Homo sapiens: one gene and its partner. The protein of the gene in region 2 interacts with the protein of the main gene of each other region in a pairwise test. Each region holds a gene or a part of one and is shown on either strand. Other genes may lie near its edges.

The links.
Region 1: the proteins of RUSF1 (region 2) and PGRMC2 interact in binary tests that used the Homo sapiens proteins (3 or more experiments, as listed by UniProt).

The regions. Positions count from the first base shown.
Region 1 is NC_000004.12:128,284,810-128,292,437, reverse strand, and holds the start of PGRMC2 (membrane-associated progesterone receptor component 2), read left to right. Parts: upstream 1-4,624; 5' UTR 4,625-4,647; coding exon 4,648-5,065; intron 5,066-7,628. UniProt on the Homo sapiens protein: Required for the maintenance of uterine histoarchitecture and normal female reproductive lifespan. May serve as a universal non-classical progesterone receptor in the uterus.
Region 2 is NC_000016.10:31,505,372-31,512,966, reverse strand, and holds the start of RUSF1 (RUS family member 1), read left to right. Parts: upstream 1-4,575; 5' UTR 4,576-4,593; coding exon 4,594-4,893; intron 4,894-5,088; coding exon 5,089-5,203; intron 5,204-7,595.

The DNA of each region.
Region 1 (7,628 bases), on a different chromosome or scaffold from region 2:
AGAGGAGAAAGCACACTTTCCATGAGCAGGATGGCTCCCAAGAGAAAGTGGAGAGGAAGAAGGTGGGCTGCCCACGAGCCAAACTTAAACATCGGGAAACTCACTGGTGGCACTCAAACAGAGCATCAAATGATATGTTCGTGGCACTCCAATGTTTCAAGAAAAATGTGATATGGAAAAAAAAAAAAAGTTTTTCCCTAAAATAGGGAAAAATTACAAGAAACAATCTCTCTTATTTAAGAATTATTTATTGAATATCATGGTGCAAACTTCTGAGCTAGGTTCACTGGGAAATGCATAAGTGAGTCAAAGCTGGATGCTGCCTAACAACCAACCACTAGTATTTCTAACTCAATTATTATATATGTCAGTGACTCATATTTTAGATTTTTGTTATAGCACCACCCTATTTCCAGTACCAATTTTTATATTAGTATGCAAAAGTTGATACCAAACAACTCCAAATAGCTAAGTGACTCAGGACAGCAGAGATGTATTTCTTATTCATATACCTAGGTATGTTATTTGGGAGCTGTTTTCCACTTTGTCCTGTCTCCGAGACCCTGGCTGATGGAAGCCCACTCAATTTGAAACATCGTTGGAGTAGTGATTAAAGATGGCCACATTTTCCTGTAACTCTGTGGTTGACAAAAATTTTTGTAATAAAGATGGCCACAAATTCTTTGTCACTCTCCCTCCACCCCTATCAAGTGTTTATTTCCTCTCCCCTTAAAATTGAGCTGGCCCTGTAACTGCTTTTACCAATACAACATGTCATTTCCAGACCTAAGACTTACAAAACCTCGAAGTTTTTGCTTTTATTGCATTTGAGAATCCTAAGCCACCATGCAAGAAAGAAGTCAGGCTACTCTGCTGAAGAAGCCATGTGAATCAGAGAGTCTTTGGAACGGCATGGGTAAATAGAAAAGCTCAGCTACTCTAGCAACCTAGTTGAGCCTCCAAAAACTCCAGCCCCAAACAATACCAGGCTGGAACCACATGAGAGACCCTGAGCAAGATTAGACAACTGCCCATGAGCCTAGTCAACCCACAAAACTGTTACACATAATAAAATGGTGACTGTTTTAAACCATTAAGATTTAAGGTGCTTTGTCATGGGACAATAGATAATTAAAATATTTCATCACTGTTGGCAGGAAGAAACAGCGCAGGATAAATGTCCACAGGCTCTTAAAGCTTTTATTTGGAAATGACACAAGTCACTTCCAATCACATTTCATTGGCCATTCTTGAGGTAAAAGGAGTAGGGAAATCCAAATCTACGTGTGTGGAAAAAGAAATAGAAATATTTGGTGGCTAGTACTAATATCTTCCAGAGATTTACAAGTAAATCAGTAAATAGATGAAGTGTCAGGGGAAAAAAGCTAACAACAGGAGAAAAGAATGTACATGACGATTCTTGTAGATGTCCTCTAGGCAAAGCAGGGATGTAAGAGGAAAAGGAGGGTAGAAAGAAGTCAAAAATAAAAAAAATAAAAAAGCATCCGCAGGGAAAAAGTAGAAATCTTGGGATCTAAAGGACAGTTTCAATAACAGAATAGTCAAGAAGAGCATAAAATAAAAGGCCAAAATGGGTGGTACAGGTAAGGAACACACAGAAATTCAAAGAAGGTAGGTTAATGTGGGCTGATAGAGGCCTCAGGTGGAAGTAGAATTGAAAGAATGGATAGGTCATGGAATTTGTATGGTTAGAAATAAGAAGGGCATGCTCCGTGAGGAAACAGCATGAGTCAAGTCCTAGACTGTGCAATACACATAGCATATATGGGGCAAGGGACTAGGTATTGTAAGGGGAAACGTATCATTTAATAGAGGGTATCCAAGGGATTGTTTGCTGGGGAACGGGAAGGCAGGGAAGCCACTCAGGGACTTATGGAGGCCCTTGAGTGCTTTCTGAGTTGTCCTCTTCAAATTACAGAGCACCCCTGGAGATTGGTGTCTGAGCAAAGGAAATCAGAACACAGTTCTAGTCTCTTCGTGTAGGAATGAAATAGGAAAAGACTGACGGCAAGTCACCAATTGGAAAGTTATTGCAGTACTCAAAGCAAGAGTATCCTATTGGGACAAGAGCTTGTTACTTAGGGTGGAAAATAAGAACTTCCAACTAGTCCAGTTCAAGGGGCTTACAATGAGAATCAAAAAAGCTGGGGTTTTGGGAAGGCTTCAAGTGTGAAGAAGTCGAGACACTATTTTATCAAGGATATAAAGGAAAACTTTTTTACTTCACGTGGCAGCCAATGTTGGTTAGCTACCCAACATTCCCCAGCCCACTTCCTTGACAGCAGAACTTTAATACTGTCCAATTCCTCTCTTCCCTCCAAACCAACTGGAAAAGAAACCTACACACACTAATTCAGCCCCAAGGTAAATCCTGAGGGTCTAAGCTACTGGTTCTCAACCAGTACCACACCTCTGGGGGGTGGGAGGGAAAAACGGTTGATTTACGGTGTCACAATGCCTGAGGTGTGGTACTGACATTTAGCTGGAAGGAACCAGAGATGGTAAATGTCCAGCAATGCTCAACACAGTCCTGAATAAGAATTAAAAAAGCCAGATAAACACTAGGCAATCATGGATGTCCCATGCTCCTTGTCTGTTACTGCTTTAGGGACAGCTAATAGCCCAGTTCTGGTCAATAAGATATAAGGAGTGGCCTGCTTCTGGGGTGCTTTCTTCCTTCCTATCAATGTTGTCTCAACTGTATACAGCTCTTGGGACTGCTACAGCTATCTTCTCCTCAAAACCAGTTTCTTCTTTATCTTCCTATTTCCATCACTGGCACCTCCCATTTTCTGTTACCAAGTCCTAAAGCAATTTTGACTTCTCCTAACCCTTAACCTTAAGGTGACTATTCCTTTAGGTTTGCCTGGGATAAAACTGATATAACTCCTGGTCTCTGGCTATAATTATTAATGCCCTACTTTACTTCCAAAAGTGTTCCATATTGAAGGATAGAGTATATGGTCATTTACTACCAATTGTGTCGCTCTCCCTCAGGTACCTCTAATGCAGGGCTCAGCAATATGGCTTATAAGTTGTTTTTGCACCTCTCCAGAACTAAAAAAAAAAAAATTTACATATTTCAATGATTTTCTTAAAAATCAAAAGAATATTTCATACCTGAAATTATATTAAAAATTCAATGTCCATAGTTTTACTGAAGACAGCTACACTCATTCAAGTATTGTCTATGGCTGCTTTCTCGTTACAAGGTAGAGCTGAGTAGTTAAGGCAGAGACTTAAAATATGATCGGGCCCTTTACAAAAAATGTTTGCCAACCCCTGCTCTAATGTCTCCCCTAGCTCTGAGTCTCCTCACCTCACGCACAAATACCCTAGCCTACTAACTGCTTTCCCACTCTTTCCCCAGCCTCTAATCCTTCAGACACCTGGTTGCTATACAGCCTCTCTACAAGAGTGTCGACCCTGTCACTTGCCTCGTCAATATCCTCAGTGACTCCTACAAAACCGACAGTGAAAGGTTCAAACCTATTCTATGAGACTCAAGACAACAGACAACAAAGGGCAAGAGAGAACACGTCAAACGAGTTCGTCAAACGAGTTGAGTGCGTGAGACTTCAGAGGTCACTTTTTCACACTAGAATTTCAAGGTGTGAGAGGCTAAAAGACGTCCAAGTACATGAAACAGAACCTGCAAATAAGAGTGAATGACGAATAGAAAGACCACCTCAACCTGTCCACTTCCCTACGGCCGCAGAAGTTATGATTCAAGGAATAATGAGACTCTAAATCCTTTAAAATTCTACAAGAGCAGCCTTTGCCAAACCCAGCGGGGAGTGGCTGCTCGGTGCCAGCGCGAGGAGCACGTAGACTGCCGATGCCAGAGAAGCCCGGTGCGGGTTCCGTGCTTTCTCTCCGTTCCAGGAAGACCCCAGCTCGTGGCCAAATCTTCTTGCCGCTTCCCGGTCTGCGCGCCTACGCTGCCGGTTTCCCGACAAAAGCGACGGCGCCCTGGTGAAAAGCAGACGCCCCTCATCGGTTTGCGCCTTGCAGCTCAACTATGCCCCAGCCTCCCACAAGCCACCTGCCCGCGTCCTCCGCCAGGCGTCCAGCCCGGACCTGCCCCCGCGGCCGCCAAGGCGCACGTGAAGCTCCCGGGCGGGGGGAGCGCAAGGAGGCGGGAGTTTGCGGACGCGAACGCAGGCCTAGGAAGGGAAGCGATTCCAGGGCGCACGCGCAGAGCCTGGAGACTGGGCGGGGCGTGCCTCCCGCAGGGGTTACGAACGAAAGGCGAGCGCGTGGCGCTCAGGAGCCCGCGCACGCGCTGTGGTCTCGCCCCGCCCATGAGCGTCCGCGCGGCCGTCGTAGCATCTTTTCTTCAGACCCGCCCGGCTCGTCTACTTAACCTAGCGGAGGCTTGGAGTGAGAGCAGGGAAGTGTGGGGCGAGGTGGGCGGGGCGTTGCACGCGTGCGCGGCCAGCGAAAGAAGGGAGGGGGCGGGAGATCCGAGACAACGTTACCCCGTCAACACCCAATCAGGAGCCGGCCTGACCCCGCCCCCTCTTCTCACGTTATTGGCTGAGAGGCCCCCAGATGGGCGGGGCCGGCCGTGGGGTTGGGGAGGGCAGGGGGCGGGGAGGAGGAGGAAGGCGCTGGCGGGCAGTGATGGCGGCTGGTGATGGGGACGTGAAGCTAGGCACCCTGGGGAGTGGCAGCGAGAGCAGCAACGACGGCGGCAGCGAGAGTCCAGGCGACGCGGGAGCGGCAGCGGAAGGGGGAGGCTGGGCGGCGGCGGCGTTGGCGCTTCTGACGGGGGGCGGGGAAATGCTGCTGAACGTGGCGCTGGTGGCTCTGGTGCTGCTGGGGGCCTACCGGCTGTGGGTGCGCTGGGGGCGGCGGGGTCTGGGGGCCGGGGCCGGGGCGGGCGAGGAGAGCCCCGCCACCTCTCTGCCTCGCATGAAGAAGCGGGACTTCAGCTTGGAGCAGCTGCGCCAGTACGACGGCTCCCGCAACCCGCGCATCCTGCTCGCGGTCAATGGGAAAGTCTTCGACGTGACCAAAGGCAGCAAGTTCTACGGCCCGGGTGAGGAGTTGGAAGGGGAGGGGAAGGACCCCCTGCAGCTGAAGCACAACCCCCTTCGGACAGGGAGGCCTCTGGGCACCGGGTTAGTTTGCCCAGCCTTCTCGTCTCCGGGACCCCCGCGCCTCGGCCGCCGCACCTGGGACGGCCCATCCCGCCCCTACACACACACCGTCCCCCCGCAGCTACGGGCACCTCCAGTTCTTCCCCCGAAACCAGGGTCCCCGGTGGCGCCCCAGAGACCAGCTCTCAGCATTCATCTTTCTTCCATCCCATTTCTCCTCGCAGCCTTTTTTTTTTGTTTCTTTGGCTGGATTTTTCAAAATCGTTTTAGTTGTCACAGGTCAACGCTGGCCCTTAACCTTTTTTGAGTCTCCTGATTCCTGGGATGGATGGGGCACCAGGGAAGGGAGATTTCTGAAGTTGGGACCTAAACTAAAGTTTTGGGCTCTGTAATTCACCGTTTTCTTTTCCTTGCCCCCTTTTTTTTTTTTTTTGCCACTGATCTCCTTTTTTCCCTCGCTGTATTACTCCGTAAGGCCACGTTTAGGGGCATGTAAAGTCCCAACCCTCCAGTCTCTGAAGTCCAGACGTATAAGCAACACCTCGGACTCTCTTTAAACCAGTTTTAGTTCGGAGTTGCTTTCCATGATTAACAAGGTATGTGGGATGAGAACAGACCAGAATGCAGAGCTTATTAAAGACTGGTAAGGATATTCACCTTGAGTTTTGGGGGTGGAGCTCCTATACCCAGCAGGCGTGTCTCTGGTTTCTTTTTTCTTTTTTTTTCTCTTTTCAAGTACACGTTGATAATGACTTGTGTTTTCACTTAGCAGAACTAAGGAGAAAAAACTTAGAAGAGTTGTAGATTTATACCCCCATGTGCCAGTTATGCAAGTTAAAGATTTTTAGAACTTTGTTTTGAGAGAACTTTGTTTTCAGGGAACTTTGTGTAGGGTAGTTGATTTAGACGCCCTTTTTTTACAGTGTGGTTGTAGCATACATTTTGGATTATGTTAATAAACCCCAGACTCATGGAACCTGTTGGTATATCATACAGTTGAGCAACATTGTGCATCCTGGTTGTGCACTGATTAATACTAAGCTTTAAAAAAAAGTGGTGACTACAATAAGAATAAATAATTAAATTAGAGACCTAAAGTGACCTGTTATTGGAGAGAGTACCTCCAAGCCTTAAAGTCATAGGGTTGGCAGTCTGGAAGTAAGCTGGTTTTCTCCTTAATTTAATCTGTAGGTGTATAAGATTTATTGACACTTAAAAATATATACTTCTGATTTCAGTGCTTGATAGCTGGAAGATATTTTAGAAGTGCTTTGGTTTGTAGTTTGTTCATTGGAATAGGGATAAGAAATAGGAGATTTTTGGTGTTGAATTATGTAATTTATTTCTTAGTTGTTTGTACTTCTGTGTATATATACACATTTAATCCAACCAAGTAAATACATAGCTTACAGAGTTTTTGCTTCTGGTTACATAAATGTGAACACAAGGTGTCTGCCTACTTATATCAACTGAAATGGTTAATACATTTTTGTTTACTTAAGCACACGTGGGACAAGAGAACAGGGCCAAAGTACAGTATTTAAACAGGCCAAGCGAAGTAAATTTTTTTTAAATCAAGGATTTAGACAGCATTTTATACCTAGTTCAAGCTTTTCCCCCATTGGTATTAAAATGTGTTAAGTGATTAGAAATCCTGTACAGGTTTAAATTTTTAATATAGACCTTACCCAGCTAAAAGATCAGCTTTTGTACCCTGTCTGAACTGCCACTGAAGAAAACAAAGTATTAGTACAAAGAATCGTATTAGTCCTCACACATTATGCCTTGGCAGTATCTGAAAATAGCTAAGAGAGACAGTCATAGAAACAGTTTGGCAGCCTCCAGTGGCAAACGTTTGTTCTGTGATAGAAATTAAAAATTAAAGCCAGGCGTGGTGGTTCATGCCTGTAATCCCAGTGCTTTGGGAGGCCGAGGCGGGTGGATCACCAGAGGTCAGGAGTTCGAAACCAGCCTGGCCAATATAACAAAACCTCGTCTCTACTAAAAATACAAGAAAATCAGCTAGACGTGGTGGCGGGTGCCTGTAATCCCAGCTACTCGGGAGGCGGAGGCAGGGAGAGTTGCTGGAACCCGGGAGGTGGGGGTTGCAGTGAGCCGAGATTGCGCCATTGCACTCCAGCCTGGGCGACAGAGAGAGACTCGGTATAAAAAAAAATTAAAAATTAAGAGTCATAGGTGGTAGATTGCTTTTTTATGGTATGTGCACTGAGGGAGGCTCTTGAGATTACAATGGAGAAGTCAGTTTTAGATTAGTTTCTGCCAGTTCCTAGGTTCTGTTGAACAGCCTAAGAGTGATATACAGTTAGTATTCTACAGTTGATCAACAACATAACAGATATTTGAATATTTTATTATTGAAAGGAACCTTAAAGAAAGCCAGATCATTTTATGGGCTTAGAATATGTTGATATTGCATATTAATAGAAAATGTAATAAGTAGTACTTTTCAAAAAATCTTAAAGCCAAATTTCTGGCTATAAA
Region 2 (7,595 bases):
AATGAGGGTGTTAAAGAGTAATGGCAGTAACTGTTATAATGACGGTCTCAAGTAGTAACAGTAGTAACTGTCATAATGATGGTCTCAAGTAGTAACAATAGTAACTGTTGTACTGATGGTCTCAAGTAGTAACAGCAACTGTCATAATGACGGTCTCAAGTACTAACAGTAGTAACTGTCATAGTGAAGGTCTCAAGTAGTCAGTAGTAACTGTCGTAGTGAAGGTCTCAAACAGTAACAGTAGTAACTATCATAATGAGGGTTTCAAGTAGTGACGGTGGCAGTCAGCCATAGAGAAAGGGGAACTATCACTCATCTCTTTGTCAAGCCACCTATCTGCACACTCAGGTCACAGGGAAGTGTATGATGGGTCCTTGCCCTCAGGCACTTACAGTCCACTTGGGAAGACAGGACATCTGTACCTAACAAAAGCAAATACAAACTGGCTCCAGACAGCATAGGCTAAGAGTTAAGTAAATGCTACAACGAACAGGGACTGTCATAGTCTCTGAGTAAGGAGATGTCAAGGTGGACAATGGTAAGCAGTAGAGCTGCAGTGGGTTCATAAATAATGTGACCATATATTCCCATTTGCCTGAGACAGCTTCACTGCAGACCTGTTTTCCCGCAGACCTGTTTTCCCAACACAATTATTACCAGTGCTTCCTTTAATGACCCTCTCAAAAGTCCTGGTTTGCACAATAAATTATACAGTGACACTAGTCATGAGGGCCACCTGCCTCACTTGGAGCCAAGGGCCTCACATTTGAACACTTGACATTATCTCTGAATAAGAACCAACACTTAAACAGTATGTACTATGTGCTAAATACTTTAAGAGTTTTGCACATACGACATGACTTTTTTGTTTTTTGTTTTTTTTTTAGACAGAGTCTTGCTCTGTCGCCCAGGCTGGAGTGCAGTGGCGCAATCTCGGCTCACTGCAACCCCCACCTCCCAGGTTCAAGCAATTCTCCTGCCTCAGCCTCCCAAGTAGCTGGGACTATAGGCACATATCACCACACCTGGCTCATTTTTGTATTTTTAGTAGACATGGGGTTTCACCATGTTGGCCAGGATGGTCTTGATCTCTTGACCTCGTGATCCGTCCGCCTCGGCCTCCCAAAGTGCTGGGATTACAGGCGTGAGCCACCGCGCCCGGCCAAGACATGACTCTTAATTCTCGTTCCAACTCTGTGTGGTAGGTACTAGTATTATTTCCATTTTACCATTACCATTTCGTCTTTCAGAAGAAGAAACTGAAAGACAGAGAGATATGTAACTTGCCCAAGATCTCACAGCTTCCTGGACAGCTTCCTGGACAGAACCTACATTCACAGTAAGGCCCTCTGATGCCCCAGAGTCCTATCCACTCACAGAAGCTAACCTTTCAAATATAACACAATGCTTGATCTTTCACTGTGCCAGGAAACTCAAAATTATTTTGAAAGGATAATTTATTGACAGTGTTATAAGCTAAATGGAAAATAAGAATTAAACATTAAATTTCTGCCAGGCACAGTTCATGCCTATAAGCCCAGCACTTTGGGAAGCTGAGGTGGGCAGATCACTTGAGCCCAGGAGTTTGAGACCAGCCTAGGCAGCATGGCAAAACCCTGTCTCTACAAAAATAAAATACAAAAATTAGCTAGCCATGGTGGCACACGCCTGTGGTCTCAGCTACTCGGGAGGCTGAGGCAGATCACTTGAACCCTGGAAGTTGAGGCTGTAGTGAGACTGTAGTGTGATCACACCACTGCACTCTCTGGGTGACAGAGAACCTGTCTTTTAAAAAAAATTAAATTTATTCAACTACTTCTCTAAAGTGCCACTCCAACATATACCAATATATTCTTTAATCTCAAGAGCTTTGGGAGGCCGAGGTGGGAGGATCACTTGAGGCCAGGAGTTGGAGACCAGCCTGGGCAACATAGTGAGATCCCATCTCTACAGAAAATTTTAAAAGTTGGCCAGGCATGGTGGTGCATGCCTGTAGTCCCAGCTACTTGGGAGGCTGAGGCAAGAGGATCACTTGAGCCCAGGAGTTTGAGGCTGCAGTGAGCTATGATTGCACCACTGCACTCCAGCCTGGGTGACAGAGCAAGACCCTGTCTCATCGATCGATTGATTGATTGACTGATAGAATAAAAAATAAATCTTAACCCTAAGGATGAAGAAGAGCTTGGCCTACAATGTCCTGCAGTTTGGCCCCTAACTCCCTAGCAGCCCTTTCCCCATGCCCCTCGTGCTCTAGACTTCTGCTGCACCGGCCTTTGTTGGATGTTAGGTACCATGCTCCCTCCCCACTCAGGACATGCTGCTCCTTCTTTCCAGAAAATTATTTTCCCATCATAATCAAGTTAACTCTTACTCTAGATCTCAGCTAAATACACACTTCCTCAAAAAAAAAGTTTCCCAGCTGGCCTCAACGGCTCATGCCTATAATCCTAGCATTTTGGAAGACCGAGGCGGGAGGCCTGGGCAACACAGAGAGACCCCAACTTAAATTTTTGTTAAAAAATTTCCCTTGGCCGGGCACAGTGGCTCATGCCTGTAATCCCAGCACTTTGGGAGGCGAGGCAAGCAGATGAGTTGAGGCCAGGAGTTCAAGACCAGCCTGGCCAACATGGCAAAACCCCGTCTCTACTAAAAATACAAAAATTAGCTGGGTGTGGTGGTGAATGCTTGTAACCCCAGCTACTCCGGAGGGTGAGGCAGGTGAATCACTTGAACCCAGGAGGTGGAGGTTGCAGTAAGCCAAGACTGTGCCACTGCACTCCAGCCTGGGTGACAGAGGGAGACTCCATCTCAAAAAAAAAAGTTTCCCTTGATTCCACTGATTAGCTCAATTCTCCTTCTAAAAGTCCTCATATTAAATAACATGTACCCCTCTACAGCAATTGAAATAGTTCCAACTTTGCATTTATTTGTATGATTTGATCAATATCCTTCCCTAATATAAGTTCCAAAAGACCAAGACCCTTGTTTGTTTTTGCTCACTATCCCAATGAGCACATAGGTAGCAACAGGTATTTGTAGAAGAAACTGGCAAACCATTGGTAAAAAAGAGATAACAAACACGGAGTTAATGACAACTGCACGGTTCAAGCGATTTTCTTGCCTCCGCCTCCCGGATAGCTGGGATTATGGCCACACCACCCCCACGCCCAGCTAATTTTTGTATTTTTAGTAGAGATGGGGTTTCAACATGTTGGCCAGGCTGGTCTTAAACTCCTGACCTCAAGTGATCCACCTGGCTCGACTTCCCAAAGTGCTGGAATTACAGGCGTGAGCCACCACGCCCAGCCCAAGGATCACTTTTGAGGCCAGGAGTTTGAGAGCAGCCTGGGCAACATAGGGAGGCCCTGCCTCTATTTAAATAAATATGTTTTTAAAGTACTTAGTCTTCAAACCTTGTTTTATTTTTGTCCTCTATTCAAACCAGTACCTGAATTTAGACAACATTACAGAAATGTTGTGATTAGGCCATTTGTATTTTGAAACCCGAAATTTAAAGAAAAAAAAAAAGAAAAGAAAAGAAGTGTTCAAGTTTATCTCAGTCAGAGAGAGACTGTGTTTGTGTGAGATAAGGCGAAGTGGGGTAGAAGGGCCTTCCAGGATTAAGTCCACGAGGAAGGTGACGGTTTGGGAGAATCTGAAGTTTCAAATAAGGAGTTGTCGGTTGGGATCAAACTGTGGGGATCCAAGAATGCCAGGCTAAGAAACCAGGATATTTTATTTTCTGATAAAAAGAGGATGCTTTTTTGGCAAATTTCTGCTTCGGAGTGAAGATGCTGCACTAGATGGGAAGGAGAAGAGGAGAAATGGAAAGAAGAAAAGGTGAGTTCCAAGGACAGAAACACTCCCTCTTTGGACTCCCCCCAATTTCATGGACTCTCTCCCGCAAAAAAACACACAAGAACTTCCTGCCTTGTTTCCTTGTTTTGTGACATCATTGCAATCTCTTGATTTTTTTCATCCCTCGGATTCCTTAGCATCCTTCAAAAGTAATGTTCCTGCAGTCTCGCAGAAGGCCGAAGGATGGAGAATTTCTAGTCCAGGCCAGGGACACTCAGAAGAGAGAAAAAAAAAAGAACAAAAAAAGACCCAAGCAGCTTCACAGGGCCTCATCTGGTCCAATTTCTTCTCATGATGCATTCATTCACTCATAAATATCTTTTGAGCACCTACTATGTGTTGGGTAGATCTAGGGATAAAATCAGGGTTAAAAATACAGTCGCTGGTCTCACAGCAAAAAAGGCACCTGAGGCCCAGAGAGGGCCACTGACTTGCCAAAAGTCACAAGCTAAAACTTCTGTGGCCGAACCGCGTCTCGAACACAACTGGCGGAGGCCCACGGCGCCTGCAGCCCAGCTGCAGAATGCTACAAAGCAACGGGGGCCGGTGCCGGGGCGTCCGAAGCAGCGCCGAGGCCGGAGAGAGCGACAGTCAGTTTCCTAACTGCGCGGCGGACGCCGAGGCCGGCGCCTGTTCTTGAAAGATGTCCCTCTGCAGCCGCGGTAGCCCAGCCGGAAGTGCCGCCTGCCACGTCCACCGTGCGGCAGGGGCGGGGCTGGGATCCAAAAGCTCGGCATGGCTGACGACGCGGGTTTGGAGACCCCGCTGTGTTCCGAGCAGTTCGGCTCCGGGGAGGCACGGGGCTGCCGCGCCGCCGCGGACGGGAGCCTGCAGTGGGAGGTCGGGGGCTGGCGCTGGTGGGGGCTCTCCAGGGCCTTCACGGTCAAACCTGAAGGACGAGATGCGGGCGAAGTGGGGGCTTCCGGGGCCCCCTCACCGCCCCTCTCCGGGCTCCAGGCCGTGTTCCTGCCTCAGGGCTTCCCTGATAGCGTCAGCCCGGACTACTTGCCCTACCAGCTGTGGGATTCCGTGCAGGTCAGCTCGGTCGTCTGGGGCAGAGGACAGTGCAGGCCACTCCTCCCTCCCCAATAATGGACGGGTGACTGAGACTCGGAGCCCGGGGGGCGGGGGGTCTGACATGCCTCATACACCAAGAACAAGAACAGATGAAGGCACTTAGACCGCCACGCTCCTACGCCCGCTTCTCACCCTACTTGTTTTCTTCTCCAGGCGTTTGCTTCCAGCCTCTCCGGCTCCCTAGCCACCCAGGCAGTCTTGCTGGGCATAGGGGTGGGGAACGCAAAAGCCACTGTTTCAGCTGCCACGGCCACCTGGCTCGTGAAAGGTGAGCTGCACCCCTGGAGCCTCACGTATTGCTGCTTTCAGCCCTGCTTTCGCTGGGCTCTTATGTGTATATATGTATGGACTCGTGCCCCATTAGGTAGAATTCAGGCAGGTCTCCCCAGTGATTAGAGTGGTGCTTTGTAACCCAGTCTTACTTCCCACATCTGGAAGACCCTCATCCCACTCACCAGCCTAGCAGCCGCACTCCATTCCCCACACAGACTTCTGAGTCTCAATCATCTGGATCCCAAATCCCGTCCCCTCCCCTTTATCCCTATTCTCTTTGTGGAAGATTGCATAAGAATGCAATTGATGGAATAAAACTGCCAGCTGCCCAGGATAGGGGAAATTGGTGAGCTCCAGAAAAAAAAGATATAGTTGGTCCTGAGAAGGAGAGAGGAGAGCCTGGAAAGAATGGAAGGTATTGTGTATGCTCTGGGATACCAGATGATGCTGTAAATAATAGAGTGACTATCTGCTGAATATGTACAGCTTTTAAAAAATTGTTTAAGGAAAAAAAATACAGTTTGGTACCATGCCACCCAGAGAGGGAAATAGAACAGAAAAGGGAAATTGTTACATGTTCTACACGAGGAGGCCCCATGGCTTTTGCCACTGTCCTTTGTCTTTCACTACTGCTCGCAGGGGATATTTATTAGGCTGGTGCAAAAGTAATTGCGGGGTTTCTTTGTCGTTATTGCCATTAAAGGTAATGGAAAACCCGCAATTACATTTGAGCCAACCTAATAGATCTAAGGAAAAGCGCTTTCCATTCGTAGCATCAGTCTGGCCACATCCCTTGTGAGCCTCTCTGGATTTTTTTGAGAAAACAGGAGCTTCCTGTTTACACCTTTACCATTAAGACTGAGAAAACTGGGCCGGGCACGGTGGCTCACGCCTTTAATCCTCGTACTTTGGGAGGCTGAGGCATCCTGGGCAACATAGGGAGACCCCCATCTCTATTTTTTTTTTTCCAGACTCGTAGTCTCACTGTCACCCAGGCTGGGATGCAGGAGTGCAGTGGCACAATCTCAGCTCACTGCAGCCTCCTCCTCCCGGGTTCAAGCGATTCTCCTGCCTCAGCTTCCCAAGTAGCTGGGATTACAGGCATGTGCCACCCTGCCCCGCTAATTTTTTGTATTTTTAGTAGAGACAGAGTTTCACCATGTTGGCCAGGCTGGTCTCGAACTCCTGACTTCGGGTGATCCATTCGCCTCAGCTTCCCAAAGTGCTGGGATTATAGGCGTGAGCCACTGCGCCCGGCTTGTTGGCCGTATTTTTGGAATGCATTTGGAGCTTGGGTCAGTAGTTTTTGTTTTCATGTGATGTCACCAACATGTTGCCTATACAGATTGAATATCCCTTATCCAAAATGCTTGCAACCAGAAGTGTTTTGGATTTTGGAATTTTTTTTGGATTTTGGAATATCTTCATGTATATAATGAGATTTGTTGGGGATCAGACTCAAGTCTAAACATGAAATTCGTTTATGTTTCATATATACTTTATACACATACCTTAAAGGCAGTTTTATACAGTATTTTCAATGGTGTGCATGAAACAAAGTTTGTGTTCATTGATCCATCAGAAAGCAAAGATGTCACTGTCTCAGCCACACGTGGACAATCTGGTTGGTTAGCGTCCCCATCGTTCCTGACTCTGAATGTATATGCTACCAAGAAGCAGTCATTTTCTTATACCTATTCACACAGAAGTACTTAACAGTATAAAACATGATATACCACTAATACAGTGAGAAATTGTGTGTTCAGGGTAACTAAGCAGCACAGCAGATCACCAGAACACCTGTATCAGCTTCTGAACCATAGCAGCAGCAACAAAAACGGCAGGCTGTCAGTCTTCAGCTGTTTTGGTGAAAAGGTTACTGGACACCATATTTTATTTTTTTAAGGTGAGAAGAAACATTAGAAGCAGTTGAAGGACAGGAAGCGGGTCCTCTAGGGATGAGGAAGTGTTCTGCTGGATGGCTTTTTAAAATGTTTCCTCCAGAGTCATTTGCCTCATTAACTGTGGTTTCTATCTTAGAAGTCTCTCTTGGATTCTATAAACTGCCTGATTTCTTGTTCCGTTATGAATGTATGCTGCTCTAGTGCCACAGTAATCCCCTCCCACATCCTCACCGTGCTGTCTATAGGCACTTTTTCTGTAGTGGTAACAGTATCCTCTTCATTGTCACTGTTACCATGATTGCCTTGATTCAGAACTGAAGGAGGCCAGCCCTTCCACACTGTGGGTATTTCTCATCAGGTGGGACGAGAGACTGAGAAAAGAAATAAGACACAGAGACAGAGTATAGAGAAAGAACAGTGGGCCCAGGGGACCGGCACTCAGCATGCGGAGGACCAGCACCAGCACTGGTCTCTGAATTCCCT